Regions from separate parts of the Homo sapiens genome. Here region 1 is linked to region 2. The links come from fine-mapping of genetic effects on gene expression. Tissue or cell type: thyroid. Region 2 holds a variant in brackets; the other region holds the start of a gene. All regions are shown on one strand. Distances are from middle to middle.

Region 1 (8,000 bases), 96 kb before region 2:
GTACACATGATGTGTTCTATGCATTCACCCTGCCCCCCAGCCCGCCCTGCAGAGGACAAGATGGGTGGCCCCGGCTCCCTTTCCCCTAACCGCCCCTGCCCGCTGTGCAGCCGTGTGCGTTGGCGTGTGTTTCTGTGTCACTGGCGTGTCACGTGATGTAGCCGTGTTTGCTGACATGAGCCCCTGCCCCCTTCTCTGTTTCTCCGTTGGTTTCTAGAGCTCTCTCCCTCCCCTTCTCAGAGGGGACAGGACTCCTGGGGCCTGGCTGGGGCCCAGAGCCAGGCCGCCCTCTCCTGTTAGCCCTCAGAGTCCCATTTCTGTTAGCCCTCAGAGTCCCATTTCTATTGGTGACCAACTTGCAAATGGATAAAACACAGGAAAATCCTGCCCCCCCCTTCCTCCCTGCATGTCCTGTCCCCAGAGCCCCCCACCCCACCCTGGGCCAGGTCAGGCCCTGTGGGACGGGAGAAATAGCAACCAATCCAACAGCGGGTGTGCCGTGTGCTCACTTCCTTCTGTCCCCACGTGGGATGGGCGCCGTGGGGAGGCGGACATGGGGTGGGGGGATGGGAGGGAGAGCTGGACAGACAGATGGACACGGTCGTGGATGAGGCTTTTAATCCGGGGTCAGCCAGGTACAGCATTGGGGACATCCCCAGGCCCAGGGCTGGCGATGTGCTGGGAAGGAACTTAGGTAGAGAGGTGGGAAGTGAAAGCATAGGGAGGCCATAGCCCTCCAGAGGGGAATTCTAAGACAGACAGTTGAAGGTGAGGCCTTTGAAAAACAATGGGAACATCACCTCCCAAAGAGGGACTGAGGTGGCTGGAGGAACCAGAGCCGCCTCTGCACTCTGCACCGAGGGTCGCGTGTGGCTGTCAGGAGAGCAGCGTAAGCCTGTGGAGCCTCTGCTCGCTTCCTGCTCAGAAAGCCAGAAGAGAGCTGGGGCAGGCCACCAGGGCACCAGACACTCACCAAGCGGCCATCAGGACTGGGATGAGAGGACAGAGGAAGGACACTCTGTCCCCAAACCCTCCCGTGTCCTGACGGCCCTAGAACTTGGAGGTGTCAGGACACAACACAGACTCAAGGCTCCTGGATTGAAAATGTGGAGGGCTTGGGCCAGGCGCGGTGGCTCACACTTGTAGTTCCAGCGTTTTGGGAGGCCCACGTGGGAAGATCACTTGAGCCCAGGAGTTCAAGACCAGCCTGAGCAATATAGTGAGACCCTGTCTCTAAAAACAACAAAAAAAAGCCAGGTGTGGTGGCGTGCACCTGTGGTCCCAGCTGTTCAGGAGGCTGAGGCAGGAGGATTGCTTGAACCCAGGAGGTTGAGGGTGCAGTGAGCTATGATCACACCACTGCACTCCAGTCTGGGTGACAGAGCAAGACCCTGTCTCAAAAAAGAAAAAGAAAATGTGGAGGGCTCTACGACAAGGACAGCCATTCTGGCCCCAGAGCCCTGCCTCCTGCTCTGGAATGCAGCTGTCCCTTCCCGTCCAGGGTGTGAGGGCTCGGGACCTGGGTGGATGTGCTGTATCTGGGCCTCCAGGCCCCAGCCCCACCGTCACTGGGCTGAACCCGTAGCGGCCTGTACCCAGAGAATGGTACGGGTCCGGCTATCCTCCCACGAGAACAGGGGCTCATAGCCGAAATGGCGCTGAGCCTTGTCGGTGCTGACGGTGAAGGTGGTGTTGGCCACGGCCAGCGTGTAGGGGTTCAGCAGGGGTGCGTAGAGCACCAGTGGCCGCAGCAGCCACTGCAGCAGGGCATTGAGGGCAGCCAGGAACACCAGCAGCCAGTAGGGCAGCAATGGGCGGGCGCCCACCAGCCGCAGTCCGCAGGGGCCCAGGAACTCCATGTTGAAATCCTCGTAGCTCCTGTAGGGTGATCCATCGTAGCAGAAGTATACCTGGCCGCCCATCAGGGTTGCCCGCTGCTCCAGCTCCCGGGCTGCCAGCACGTGCATCCAGGCAACATTGCCTGCCGGTGGCGGAAGAGAGGCGGACACACCCCTGAGTGCCCTTGCAACACCACATCGAGGCTGCTCTCCTGGGCCACCCCCTCTTTGGGCCCAGGTAGTTGCCGCCCACATCCCCACAGCAGCCTGGGAAAGGCTGCCTTCTCCCTCGCCCTGGTAGTCACTTGCTCTCCTGGGCCAGCCTGCATCTGCAAAGAACCTGGGGAGAGGATAGAGAAACCAGGACCTGCGTGGTGGGCCCTGAGAGGCTTGGGGACTGCAGGATGGAGTGGCAGGTGACCTTATTCCCTGTGTAGATGCTACTTCCTTTAAAAAAAGTTTTAGAGACAGGGTCTGTCTCTGTCATCCAGGCTGGAGTGCAGTGGTGCGGTCATAGCTCACTGCAGCCTCCAACTCCTGGGCTCAGGCCATCCTCCCGCCTCAGCCTCCTAAAGTGCTGGGATTATAGATGCGAGCCACTGAACCCAGCCCTTTTAGTGCTGTGTACACACTGTCCCTCTCCTCTCCTCTCCTGGGGAATGGCTGCTCCCATAGCTGCAATCTTCTCTGTAGCCTATGATACACTTTTTAATGTCCCAACTTGCATGGATCCTGTATTCTCTGCAGGCTGTGGAGACATAATCACAGTCTACCTTGGCCCATGTATAGACCATATTTTTCTAGCCAGAGTCCACACTTCTCTCCCAGGGCCATGTGGGTCCTGCCCCCTTCTAGAGCAAGTCCTCCTGCCATATTCTCAGCCTCCCCCTGCCTAGCCCAGTCCTCACCCACATAGACCCGGCCATGCTCCACAGAGGCCGGGATGGCCCGGAAGAGCCAACCTCCCAGGCGCAGGCCCTGGCGGTAGAAGTCCCTCATGATCTGGTGGCCTTCACCGTAGATGCCCGTGGGACGAAGGGCACACGTCACCAGGGGCAGCCCCCCACGGACCTGGTGGCAAAGGCAGGTACTGCTGAGACCTGGGACCCGACAGCTTGCTCTCGGCCCCGGCCTCCTTGGGCTGGCAGGGTAAGGGGGTGTGCAGGGCAGGAGCCCCATCTCTGCGCCTCCTTTTTCTGGGCTCACCTTCCTCCCGTTGGCCTCCAGGACCAGCCACTCGGCCAGGGCCTTGCTGCAAGGATAGGGGTGCCTGTGCACTGCTTCGTATGGGGTGTCTTCGTTGCCCCTGGTGGGAGGAGAAGGAAGACTCAATGCTGAGGGAAATGGGCTCTTAGAGGACAAGAGGGCCTGCCACTCACCTGTAGAAGGGGTGACCTTTGGTGTTAGGCCCCACAACTTCCATGCTGCTGGTGTAGACCAGGAACCGTGTTCCGGTCTGCACACAAGCCTCGATCACGTTCCGGGTACCTGGCAGAGGAGGAGGCGTATCCAAGCTGCAGCTTCTTCCCTCTCTGCATCTTCCTCCTCCCCATCCCAGGTCCAGGGAAAACCATGACAGGTCAGGGGAGGCGGGGGCAGGGCTGTCAATAGGACAACTTGTCCCAGGGGAGTCACCGGAGGTCAAGGCCAAAGACAGAGTGGGGAACAAACAGGCAAGATGGCCAGGAGTGTCCAGAGCTCCTCACCCTGCACGTTGACCTCATGGATGGTCTTGGGACTGGCCCTGCCAAACACGTCTACCAGCCCAGCCGTGTGGATGACCACATGGGCTCCGGCCACAGCTGCTGCCACCTCATGGGCCTGGGTCACGTCCCCCTGGATGGCAGTCACCCTCACAGGCCCTGGCCGGGGTTGGAGGACACAGGCCATGTCAGAGCTGGGGCCAGAGGCCAGAGGCTGGGTTCATCTTCCACCCTGGAGTCACGTTCCCAATGTGACTCACTCGACCCATCCATGTGGACAGAAACCAGCATCATCTGTTCCACTGCAGGGGTGGGGATCCCAGCTTGGGAAGGGTTGGGGAAGCGTCCACACCCTCTCCACCACAAGCTCCCCCAACAAGAACCTGTCTTCAGCTCCTCCAGCCAGGGACCCAGGTGTTGGTCAAAGACCCGCAGCTCCCCGAGCCGGGGCTCCCGCTGCAGCAGCATTCGCACCACGTGCTCTCCCAGGAAGCCACAGCCCCCTGTGACCAGGTACACCAGCTTCTGGGCCTGTGCAGAGTCGGCCATGCCTGGCTGGGGAAGAGACCTTGGCTCATCCAGGGGCTGGCTGCCACCTGCTGCAACCACCTGTTACTGCTGGAGGTGCCCTGGAGCGGTGACGAGGCTGGCGTTTGCGGGGAGGGCAGAGCTGATCCTGGGAGCTGCAGCAACCAGGCCACCTGCCGTCTGCCCCTGCTGATGGCTGAGTTACGGAGAGAGGGGCGGGCTTGGGGTGCAGGAAGGGGTCAGGGTTTAGGGAGAGAGATTTGAAGGCAGTAAAAGGGTGGGGAGGCCAGGAGTTGAGGGAGGTGGAGGGAAGGTTATAGGAAGGTGGGAAGGGCCGGATGGAGGGAAAGGCCACCTGGGCACTGGCAGCGCCTCTGCCTACCTGCAGCCGCTATCCCAGGGTGCCCAGACTGGCCTGGAGGGGCCCTCTTCTTTCGTCCAGGGCTGGCCGGCCCGCACACCGTCCTTCCGCTGGCTCCTCCTTCTCCCTCCTGCCCCATTCCAGGAACAGAGACCCGCCCAGCCACAACCCCCACCACTCTTGCCCCAAGGCGCCCCCTGGCGGCCGCTCTGTGCTCCACTGGCATCTGGGTCCAGCGGAGAACTTGGTGGGGATGAAGCTCGAACTTGCAGAGTGGGCTGAAGGGGTCTGGGGCTGTGGGTGGAGCCAGCGGTGACCTCATCCCACAGTGTGACCTCAGGCCTTCCCTCCTGCTGGGCTTCCCAGGAGGCCGGAGGTCCAGCTGCAGCTGTGATTGTAGGAAGGGGAGGCCTGACCTTGGCACCACCCTGGCGGGCACTGGTGGGGTATTCCTGGTGCGGGTGCGGCTGCTGCAGCCTGTCAGGGGGTCCGAGACAGTCTCGGACTGTCTCTGCAGGTCTGGGCTCTTGCCTGAAGGCCCCTTTACCTGCCCCACACTTCAGGTACCCACTTTTCCCTCTCTTCAACTTGCACAACCCTCCGTGCCCTCTACCCCCAACCCCTCGCTCCTGCCCAAATACACCGACCAAACACTTTTGTACAATAAAGTTTAATCACAATTATAAAAATGTGGCGTCGGGTTTGCGCTATTAACATATGTACAGTCCAGCCCAGCAAAAGGGACCCACCCCGCCATCCTGGCCTGGCTGAGCCGGGGAGTGACACCAGGGTGGAAGGGTGACCCTCAGGGTCTGGCAGGAACAGATGAGGCAGGGTTCCAGGCACGGAGTCCCCAGGACTGGGGGTGCAGAGCCCCCCCAGGGGGAGAACATGGCCACTGCCCCAGAGACCCCTAAACTGGGGAGGGGTACACGCAGGGCGTAAGGGGAAGTCCCCATTAACACAAAGCAAGAGGACTGTGTAGCCCCCCAGGACAGAATCTGTACAGGCCGGCACCCCAGGTTTCCACAGGAAACAGCTGCTGGCTGCTACAAAACATTTACAGCTTCTTCTCCGCAAAGAAAAACAATCAGGGGGTGGTGGGCAGGGGTGACAGGAGAGGCAGAAGCTGCCTCCAGGGACTGAGGCTCCCTCGCTGGGCTTGGGGCCCCCAACCCCACGCTTGGAGATGGGGGCATGTGGGCCCTGCTGAGCCCACTAAGGCTGGGGGGGTGCTGGGAGCTCAGGGCACCAGGGGGAATAAATAGGGGTGTGGGCACCCATCCTGCCCCACCTCAGTTTAGGGAGCCCCGGCAGCTCTCTGTGCCACACAGACACGGGATCTTGTTGTCTTCCAGTGGGAACTTGTAGTCGTAGGTGATCTCCTCGTCCACGCCAATGGGCTGCTTGGAGTAGATCACGATCTTCTTCTGGGACTCGATGGTGATGACCTTGGCGTAGCAGTTAGGCTGCGGATGGAAGGGCGTGTGAGCCGTGGCCACCCCCACCGACCCCCAACTCCTGCCCCGGCTGGCCCCTGGCGCACCGTGCAGCAGTGGTTGATGAATCTGGCCAGGTTGCCACACTTGGTGGCATCGATGATGGTGTCGTGGTCCACCCGGAACAGGTAGCTGCTGCCAATGCCCTCCTGCACGTAGCGCTTCTCCCGCATGTCGGCCACCATCTGCCAGGGTGAGATGCGATGGTCAGGGAAGAGTCCCCCACTTCCTGCCCCTGAGCACGCCTGCCAGCCAGCACCCCAGGTCCACGCCCACCAGGCCTGGAGCTGCAGCTCTGCCTCCAGCTCCCGCTAACCCGGCACTGACTCTCTCGACTCTGCTTCCAGGAGCCCTCCCTCTTTGGGGCAGCATCCTAAGCCTCTGGTGGCCATTCTAAGTCACCCGCAGGGAACTCCAGGGAAATCTGCACTGGGTAAGAGAGCCACTGACTCCTTCGAGCATCTGCCTGGTCACAGTGGGGTCCCGGACTGCTGGGGCAAGTCTGGGGTTGGGGCAGCTCCTGAAATGACTGGCCATGTCACCAACGGCACCCTGCTCATCTCTCCTCCCTGGACCTCTCTCCAAAACAGGCACCTGTTGGCTGCCACCGGCTAATGCAAATGGCAGGCCGCCCATGTCAGGCCCCGCACCTCCGTGTGAGGAGCAACCCTTACTTCCCAGAAGACAGTGAGGAGCCTCTGCACGCCCTCCTCGGGTGACCTCACTCCCTTCCAGAGCCTCAGCCGCCAGCTATGTGGTGGGGACTCCTCCCAAACTTCCATTTCCAGCCAAAAGCCACCTCAGTGGAGCTGCTGGGCGTCATCCCCTAGATGTCCCTGGGGCATTGCAACCCCACATGTCCAGACTGGAGCTCATCTTGACCATATATTTGTTCTTCCTCCTCACACCCATCTCACTGGCCCTCCCATCATACTCCCAGCAGCTAAGAGCAGCACCGAGAGAGGGCCTCCCGTCCCCCTCACCCTCTCACTGCTGAGCCCAGCCAACCACCTTGCACCCAAAGCCTCCTCTCTGTCACCTCTGCTGCCACTGCTTGGGTCGGGCCACCCTTGCCTTTGCCTGGATACTGGTGTCAGCCTAGACATGGAGCTCACTAGCCATGGGGCCCTCTCCTGCGGAAGGACCCTCTCCTGCGGAAGGACCCTCTCCTGAAGAAAGCTCCGGGACTTTCCTCCTCTCTCACCACAGGCCCAAGTGGATTCACAGGCTCCCAAGCCCGTGCGGTCTGGGCTCTCTGTTCCCTCCAGCCACACGTCGCTGCCACTGACCCTGTTTTTTCTTTTCTTTTTTTTTTTTTTGAGACGGAGTCTTGCTCTGTCGCCCAGGCTGGAGTGCAATGGCGCGATCTTGGCTCACTGCAACCTCTGCCTCCCAGGTCCAAGCGATTCTCCTGCCTCAGCCTCCCTAGTAGCTGGGATTACAGGCGCCTGCCACCACGCCTGGCTAATTTTTGTATTTTTAGTAGAGACGGGGTTTTAGCATGCTGGCCAGGCTGGTCTCGAACTCCTGACCTCAGGTGATCTGCCTGCCTCAGCCTCCCAAAGTGCTCGGATTACAGGCATGAGCCACCGCGCCTGGCCATGGCCCTGGTTTCTAATGAGCCAAGCTGACCTCCACACTCTCACAAGACGACCGTGCCTCCAGGTTTGTGCACATGGTGTCTCGCAACCAAGCGCACACACACTACCACTTGTCTGGGCCTGCGAGCTCCTTTCAGCTTTACTCAAGCACCATGGTCTCTGGAAGGTCTTAGGCCCCCCAGGTGTGTGTTCCCATAGCCCAACTCCCCAGATCTTGTTAAGATCTTGTTAATACCAAATGCCATCCTTTTGGCTTTTGTTTTTTCTAGAGACACGGTCTCACCCTGTTGCCCAGGCTGGAGTGCAGTGGTGCAATCTTGGCTCACAGCAGCCTCCACCTCGTGGTCTCGAGTGATCCTCCCACCTCAGCCTCCTGGGTAGCTGGGACCACAGCCATGTACCCCCACGCCCGGCTAGCTTTTGTATTTTTTGCAGAAACGGGGTCTGGCAATATTGCTCAGGCTGGAACA
Region 2 (8,000 bases):
TGTCCAGCTCCTAGGGGGGTGGGTCTCCCCTCAGGCCTCTCTGACCCAGCCCCCCACCCTCCCACAGGGAGAAGCGATGGGTGACTGTGGGCGACACTTCCCTTCGTATCTTCAAGTGGGTGCCAGTGGTGGATCCCCAGGAGGAGGTGAGCAACCCCCATTCCCACAAGGCCCTGCATCTGTGCAACCTCAGGCAAGTTCCTCCCCACGCTGACCTCTACCTCCAGCTCCCCGAGACCTCAGATGCAGCAGGACAGACGGGAACCATCATTAGCAGCTCCTCCCCTTTTGCCCTCTTTTCTGCTCCACACCCCCTGAGTTTGAGCCCTTTTGCTTCTCAGTGCCTCAGTTTCCTTAGGTGTATGGTGGGGCTTTCCAAGAGCTCTGACCCTAATCCTCTAACCCCCAGGAGCGAAGGCGGGCAGGTGGCGGGGCAGAGAGATCCCGTGGCCGGGAACGTCGGGGCAGGGGCGCCAGTCCCCGAGGGGGTGGCCCTCTCATCCTGCTGGATCTTAATGGTAGGTAGGGATCCTGAAACGCGGGGGGCTGTGGGGACTGAAGGAGTGTACTAGGGATCTCAGGCCAACCATCTCGGCTCTTGCTCCCGCAGATGAGAACAGCAACCAGAGTTTCCATTCGGAAGGTTCCCTGCAAAAGGGCACAGAGCCCAGTCCTGGGGGCACCCCCCAGCCCAGCCGCCCTGTGTCACCTGCCGGACCCCCAGAAGGGGTCCCTGAGGAGGCTCAGCCCCCACGGCTGGGCCAAGAGAGAGGTAGGACCAGGTACCTCCCAGGAGCTCTCTCCTCTAAGTCCTGTCTTCTCCAGAGTCTAACCTACCAGCTCATCCCTATACCTGCTCCCCGTCTTGTGCACCCTCCTCAAGGCGCCTTCCGACTCCTGCAGAATCTCCCTGTAGCTACAGTCTCATTCCTCTGGTCTCTTAGAATCTATACAGACATATCACTGTCTGAGATTTTCATGTAAATTAATTTTTTACTAGTTTATCTTTCTCCTCACTCTCATGTCAGTTTCCTGAATGTTGGGCCCATATTGATCCTTTTTTTTTTTTTTTTTTTTTTTTTTTTTTGAGAAAGGGTCTCGCTCTGTCACCCAGGCTGGAGTAGTATAGTGGTGTGATCATAGCTCACTGCAGCCTTGAACTTCCTGGGCTCAAGCGATCCTCCCGCCTCAGCCTCCCAAGTAGCTGGGACCACAGGCATATGCCACCACACCTGGCTAATTTTTGTATTTTTTGTAGAGATAAGGTTTCACCATGTTGCCCAGGCTGGTCTCAAACTCACTTGCTCAAGCAGTCCTCCACCTTCAGCCTCCCAAAGTGCTGGGATTACGGGTGTGAGCCATCACACCCACACCCGGCCCTCCCCCCCCTTTTTTTTAGAGACAAGGTCTCTGTCACCCACGCTGGAGTACTCTGGTGCAATCATAGCTCACTGCAGCCTCAAACTCCTGGGCTCAAGGGATCCTCTGGCCCCAGCCTCCCAAATAGCTGGGACTCAGGTGTGTGCCACCATGCCCAGCCAATTCTTAAATTTTTTGTAGAGGTAGGGTCTCGCTATGTTGCCAAGGTTGGTTTTGAACTCGTGGCCTGAAATGATCCTCCTGTCTCAGCCTCCCAAGGTGCTGGGATTATAGGCGTGAGTCACTGTGCCTGGCCCTATGTGATCTTGTTCACTACTGTATCCTCAGAATAATATGGGACACATAGTAGGTGCTCAGTAAATATCTGTTGAGTGAATAAATAATAGTGATAGTCATAGGGGTGATTAACAATAATAGGAATAACAACAGCTAGTATTTATTGAGCTCTTACTGTGTGCTAGGTGCCCTGGTAAACACTTTACGTGGTTGGGTTTTTTTCTTTTCTCTTTTTCTTTTCTTTGAGAGAGTTTCGCTCTTGCCAAGGCTGGAGTGCGACGGCACAATCTTGGCTCACTGCAACCTTCACCTCCTGGGTTCAGGCAATTCTCCTGCCTCAGCCTCCTGGGTAGCTGGGAATATAGGCATGAACCACCATGCTCGGCTGGTTTTGTATTTTTAGTAGAGTTGGGGTTTCGCCATGTTGGCCAGGCTGGTCTCAAACGCCTGACCTCAGGTGATCTGCCCGCCTTGGCCTCCCAAAGTGCTGGGATTACGAGCCACCACGCCCAGCCTTTTTTTTTTTTTTTTTTGAGATGAAGTCTTGCTCTGTTGCCCAGGCTGGAGAGCAGTGGTACGATCTTGGCTCACTGCAAACTCTGCCTCCCAGGTTCAAGCGATTCTTCTGCCTCAGCCTCCCATGTAGCTGGGATTACAGGCATGCCACCATGCCCGGCTGATTTTTGTTTTTTTTGTTTATTTGTTTGTTTGTTTTTGAGACAGAGTTTCATTCTTGTTGCCCAGACTAGAGTGCAATGGCACAATCTCAGCTCACCGCAACCTCTGCCTCCCGGGTTCAAGCGATTCTCCCGCCTCAGCCTCTCGAGTAGCTGGGATTATAGGCATGCACCACCATGCCCCGCTAATTTTGTATTTTTAGTAGAGACGAGGTTTCTCCATGTTGGCCAGGCTGGTCTCGAACTCCCGACTTCAGGTGATCCGCCTGCCTCAGCCTCCCAAAGTGCTGGGATTACAGGCGTGAGCCACCGTGCCTGGCCTAATTTTTGTATTTTTAGTAAAGATGGAGTTTCACCATGTTGGCCTGGCTAGTCTCGTACCCCTGACCTCAGGTGATCCGCCCGCCTCGGCCTCCCAAAGTGCTAGGATTACAGGTGTGAGCCACCGTGCCCAGCCAACACTTTACGTGTTTTTTTCTCATTTAATTTTTACTACAACCTTATAAGGGTGATGATCTTGTTATGATCCCTATTTATAGATGAGGAAACTGAGACCCAGAGAAGTAACTCAGCCAGTGAGCCAGCATCTTGGGCCTGTGTCCTCATCAGCTCTGCTTTTTTTTTTTCCTTTGAGATGGAGTCTCACTCTGTCACCTAGGCTGGAGTGCAGTGGCACGATCTTGCTCACTGCAACCTCCGCCTCCCAAGTTCAAGCAATTCTCCTGCCTCAGCCTCCTGAGTAGCTGGGATTACAGGCTGCACAACAC[C/T]ACACCCGGCTAATTTTTGTATTTTTAGTAGAGACGGGGTTTCATCATGTTGGTCAGGATGGTCTTGAACTCCTGACCTCGTGATCCACCTGCCTCGGCCTCCCAAAGTGCTGGGATTACAGGCTTGAGCCACCGTGCCCAGCCAGCTCTGCTTTCTTCCATGCAGTCAAACCCGTCTGATTGGCACCTCTTCCTCCTAGGCTCCCTGTCCCTGGCCTTCCCATTTCTCACCCGTTTTTGGTTCCAGCTGGTCTCTTCTAGTCACCTCCACACAGCTGCCAGAACAACTTTTTCCTTCATTTTTTAAGCTTTGCTTTTTTTTTTTTTTTTTTGAGACAAGGTCTCACTCTGTCGCCCAGGCTGGAATGCAGAGGCGTGATCACGGCTCACTGCAGCCTTGGATTCCTGGGCTCAGTCAGCCTCCTGAGTAGCTGGGACTACAGGCATGCATCACCATGCTCAGCTAATTAGTGTTGTTATTCTTTATAGAGACAGGGTCTTACTATGTTGCCCAGGCTGGTTTCAAACTCCTAGGCTCAAGCGATCCTTCTGCCTCAGCCTCCCAGAATGTGAAACCCTGTCTCTACTAAAAATACAAAAAATCAGCGGGACGTGGTGGCACATGCCTGTAATCCAGCTATTAGGGAGGCTGAGGCAGGAGAATCACTTGAACCTGGGAGGCGGAGGTTGCAGTGAGCCGAGATCGCGCCACTGCACTCCAGCCTGGGGGACACAGCGAGACTCTGTCTCAAAAACTAAAACAAACAAACACACAAAAAGAAAACCCTGATGTGGGCCTGTGGACTGGGTCTGGGTCTAGACAGTGCCAAGCAGTTGTATACCTTTGCTAATATAAAAATGGTAGCAAGCATTTATTGAGCACTTACTGTGTGCCAGCCACTGTGCTTTACCTGCATCCGCTCATCTGACCCTCACAACAGCCACATGAGGTAATTACTATCATTATCCCCATTTTACAGATGGGGAAACTGAGGCCCATGGAAATGAAGTAGCTGGCCCAAGGTCAGGATTTGAACCCAGGCAGTCCAAGCCCAGAATCTGTGGCAACTTAGCATGCATTCCCTCTGTCTCACGTGTCATACTTTCCTGTCCACCGCATCACCCTCGAGCTCCCACATCAGTGTTCCCTCCTCTGCTTCCTGGGGCACAGCCAGGTTCCTGCTCTCTCCTCTCTGCTCCCATGGCCCTCTGCCCTCTGTGACTGGGGCCTGTGACCATCTGTTTCCCCCACTGTCTGTGCTGCTGGCACAGAGTGGCTGTTCAGGGGATGTTTGTTACCTTGACGTTCCAGATCCCGGGGGCATAACTGCTGGCAGCACCGACGAACCCCCAATGCTGACCAAGGAGGAGCCTGTTCCAGAACTGCTGGAAGCTGAGGTGAGAGAGGCCAGAAGGCTGGACTCCTGGGTCTTGGAGGGAATGGGGGATCTGGGCAGTCGAAGGCTTGGAGCCTGCGTCCTGAGGGCCTGGAGGAGAGGCAGACCTGGGACAGAGCTGAAGGCTTAGGGGCTGGGTTCTTGGGACTGAAAAAGAAAGGGTGTTTCAGAGACAAAGTGCTGAGGGCTGGATCAGGGCTGATTGAGACCATTAAAAGCCTGACAAAGCTGGGCGTGGTGGCTCACGCCTGTAATCCCAGCACTTTGGGAGGCGGAGGCGGGTGGATCATGAGGTCAGGAGATCGAGACCATCCTGGCTAACACGGTGAAACCCCGTCTCTACTAAAAATACAAAAATTAGCCGGGCGTGGTGGCACGTGCCTGTAGTCCCAGCTACTCGGGAGGCTAAGGCAGGAGAATTGCTTGAACCCGGGAGGCGGAGGCTGCAGTGAGCCAGGATCGCGCCACTGTACTCCAGCCTGGGTGACAGAGCGAGACTCCTTCTCAAAAATAAATAAATAAATAAAGCCTGACAAAATCATGGCGCTCCTCCATGCATTTTCAAAAAATATCAAAAAATATCTAACTGTATAATTAGCATAAGAAAATTCCTTATAAACCTCTGACATTTCTCACGAGGCTACCTCGAGGCATTTTCAGAAATATCAAATATCAGGTTCGTTCCTCCACACAGTGTCACTGTCGTTGTTGTTTTTGGTGCCTGCTTCCTCTGCATCCTGGGCATCTGGCCCTGGGCTTGCCTCCCGGGCCCAGGAGGGGAGGGGAGTGGAGGCTTTGGAGAAGGCAGAGGCTCAGAGGCTGGACGCCTGGGTTCTGTGGAGCTCACGCCTGTCCACCCTTCCTCTCCAGGCCCCCGAAGCTTACCCTGTCTTTGAGCCAGTGCCACCTGTCCCTGAGGCAGCCCAGGGTGACACAGAGGACTCGGAGGGTGCCCCCCCACTCAAGCGCATCTGCCCAAATGCCCCTGACCCCTGAGAAGCCGGCCTGCCTGTCCTGTTGCCCCAGGGGCCCCTTTGGCTTTTTACAAATAAAGACCCTTTTGTAATTTTGTGTCATGTCATTTCCCCGTCAGGGCTGGGGAGGGTCTTTGGAGACAGTTTTGTCTCATGCACCATTGCTCAGATGTGGTCACTGAGGCTCTGAGAGGACCTTCCTGTAGTGACACCACAAGGCAGAGTGGGGTGGGGGCTTGAGCCAGGACCCTGCCTCTCAGTACTTCCCAGGTCTGTCCTATCTCCCGACCTTCACCTCCTCCTCTGGGAGGCCCAGGACCCCTCTTCCTGCTCAGCCCTCGCCTGGGCCTAACAATTATCAAAACTCTGGGTAGCTAGGCCATGATTCTTTTTTTTTTTTTTTTTTTTTTGAGACACAGACTTGTTCTGTTGCCCAGGCAGGAGTGCAGTGGTGCGATCATGGCTCACTGCAGCCTTGACATCCCACCTCAGCCTCCCAAGTAGCCGGGACCACAGGTGTGTGCCACCATACTCAGCTAATTTTATTTATTTATTTATTTATTTATCACTATTTTTTTTTAGAGAGTTTTGCTCTTGTTGCCCAGGCTGGAGTGCAATGGCGCAATCTCGCCTCACTGCAAACTCTGCCTCCTGGGTTCAAGCAAGTCTCCTGCCTCAGCCTCCTGAGTAGCTGGGATTAGAGGTGCCTGCCACCACGCCCGGCTAATTTTTGTATTTTTAGTAGAGACTGGGTTTTGCCATGTTGGCCAGGCTGGTCTCAAACTCCTGACCACAAGTGATTTGCCCGCCTCGGCCTCCCAAAGTGCTGGGATTACAGGCATGAGCCACCATGCCCAGCCTGCTAATTTTATTTTTTGTAGACATGGGGTCTCGCTACATTGCCCAGGCTGGTCTTGAACTCCTGGGCTCAAGTGTTCCTCCTGCCTTGGCCTCCTAAAGTGTTGGGATTACAGGCGTGAGCCACCGCGCCCAGCCTATTCACGTTTCATACATAATAACACAGAGGCCCAGAGGGACTTGGGGGCCTGGGATGACCAACCCATTCCCTGCCCTGAAGAAGCCACTCCTCCACCTGGGATGCCTGGCCACACTTCTGGTTGGGTCTAACTTATCCCCATCTCAATCACCATCTCCTCCGAGAAGCCTTCCCTGACTCCAGGCTCAGTGAGTTTCCCCTTTTTTGAGCTCCAGCAACCCCTTGGGCTTCATTCTCCTTGTTTCATCATTTATCAGGCTGTTCTGGGATCCGTGGTTTGTGTGTCTGTCTTGTCTACGAGGCTGTGGGCTCCTGAGGGGTCTCCACACAACACTGGGAACAGGGCAGTCCCAGCAGCTGCTTCATGAATAAATGAATACATGAATGGGCTGGGGTTTTCCAGGCAGGCTTCTCTGAGGAGGTGGCATGTGAGCTGGGCTCTGAGACATGAACCTCTGTGCTAGAACTCAAGTCAGAAGCCCTGGTTCAAGTCCTGGCTCTGTTACTCCCTGAGTGGCTCTAGGCAGGCTGTTTCTACTCTCAGCCTTAGTTTGTTCATCTGAGCAATGGGAACAATAACTAGGCCTCATCTGCCCCAGGGGTTTGTGGGAAGCTTCGAGTAATATAAGGCCCTCTCACTCTGTGCCTATAGGGTCATGTATATTGGCCCTATTTTTATTTTTAATAAAGAAAGATACTGAGGTTCAGAGAGGACCAAATTGGAACTTTAAAGAAGCATTAAAAACTGTAGGCTAGGTGTGGTGGCTCACACCTGTAATCCCAGGCCTTTGAGAGGCACAGGTGGGAGGACTGCTTGAGGCCAGGAGTTTGAGACCAGCTTGAGCAACAAAGCAAGACAAAAATGAAAAAATTAGCCAGGCATACTGGTGCGCGCCTGTAGTCCAAGCTTCTTGGGAGGCTGAGGTGGGAAGATTGCTTGAGCCCGGGAAGTTGAGGCTGCAGTGAGTGATGATTGCACCACTGTGCTCAAATCTGGGCAACAAAGCAAGACCCTGTGTCTAAACAAACAAAGGAAATGTAAGGATGCTTCCGACAGCAGCTGCAGTGGTGTTGGTGGAGCCAGTGCTGTCCAGGGAAGCCAGGCTTGCTGCAATGTAGTGTAACTGTTTCTTATCACTGCTGTAACAAATTGCCACACATATAGGGGCTCAAAGCCACAGACATTAGCCAGGCACAGTGGCTCATGCCTATAATCCCAGCACCTTGGGAGGCCGAGGTGGGTGGATCACCTGAGGTCAGGAGTGTGAGACCAGCCTGACCAACAAGGTGAAACTCCGTCTCTACTAAAAATACAAAAGTTGGCTGGGCATAGTGGCGGGCGCCTGTAATCCCTGCTACTCGGGAAGCTGAGACAGGAGAACTGCTTGAATCCGGGAGGTTGCAGTAAGCCGAGATCGCACCACTATACTCCAGCCTGGGTGATGGAGCAAGACTCCATCTCAAAAAAAAAAAAAAGAAAAAGCCACAGACATTGATTCTCTTACAGTTCTGGAGAAGTCCAAAGTTAGTCT

What was found. PIP is the estimated chance that this variant, and not a neighbour inherited with it, causes the effect.
Region 1: HSD3B7 starts here. The variant in region 2 is fine-mapped to the expression of HSD3B7 in thyroid (GTEx, PIP 0.94).

What each region holds. Positions count from the first base shown.
Region 1 is chr16:30,981,749-30,989,748 of GRCh38, reverse strand. HSD3B7 (hydroxy-delta-5-steroid dehydrogenase, 3 beta- and steroid delta-isomerase 7) reads right to left here and starts at 4,542. Exons shown (of 7, transcript NM_025193.4): 1 at 4,452-4,542; 2 at 3,925-4,096; 3 at 3,545-3,700; 4 at 3,218-3,326; 5 at 3,045-3,144; 6 at 2,747-2,909; 7 at 602-1,981. The coding sequence starts at 4,090. The coding sequence ends at 1,566. SETD1A (SET domain containing 1A, histone lysine methyltransferase) reads right to left here. Exons shown (of 19, transcript NM_014712.3): 18 at 5,977-6,114; 19 at 5,085-5,899. The coding sequence ends at 5,726. STX1B (syntaxin 1B) reads left to right here. Exons shown (of 10, transcript NM_052874.5): 10 at 1-493. RefSeq lists enhancers at 1,216-1,715, 4,561-5,073.
Region 2 is chr16:30,885,358-30,893,357 of GRCh38, reverse strand. It overlaps BCL7C (BAF chromatin remodeling complex subunit BCL7C), which reads left to right. Exons shown (of 6, transcript NM_004765.4): 2 at 68-146; 3 at 410-518; 4 at 611-772; 5 at 4,413-4,498; 6 at 5,368-5,563. The coding sequence ends at 5,493. The region is part of intron 2 of MIR762HG (MIR762 host gene); the gene reads right to left. Among named protein-coding and RNA genes, the nearest start is that of MIR762, 4.5 kb to the left of the region's middle. RefSeq lists enhancers at 1-153, 1-324, 5,401-5,902. The variant C/T (reference allele first, on the strand shown) is at 3,101.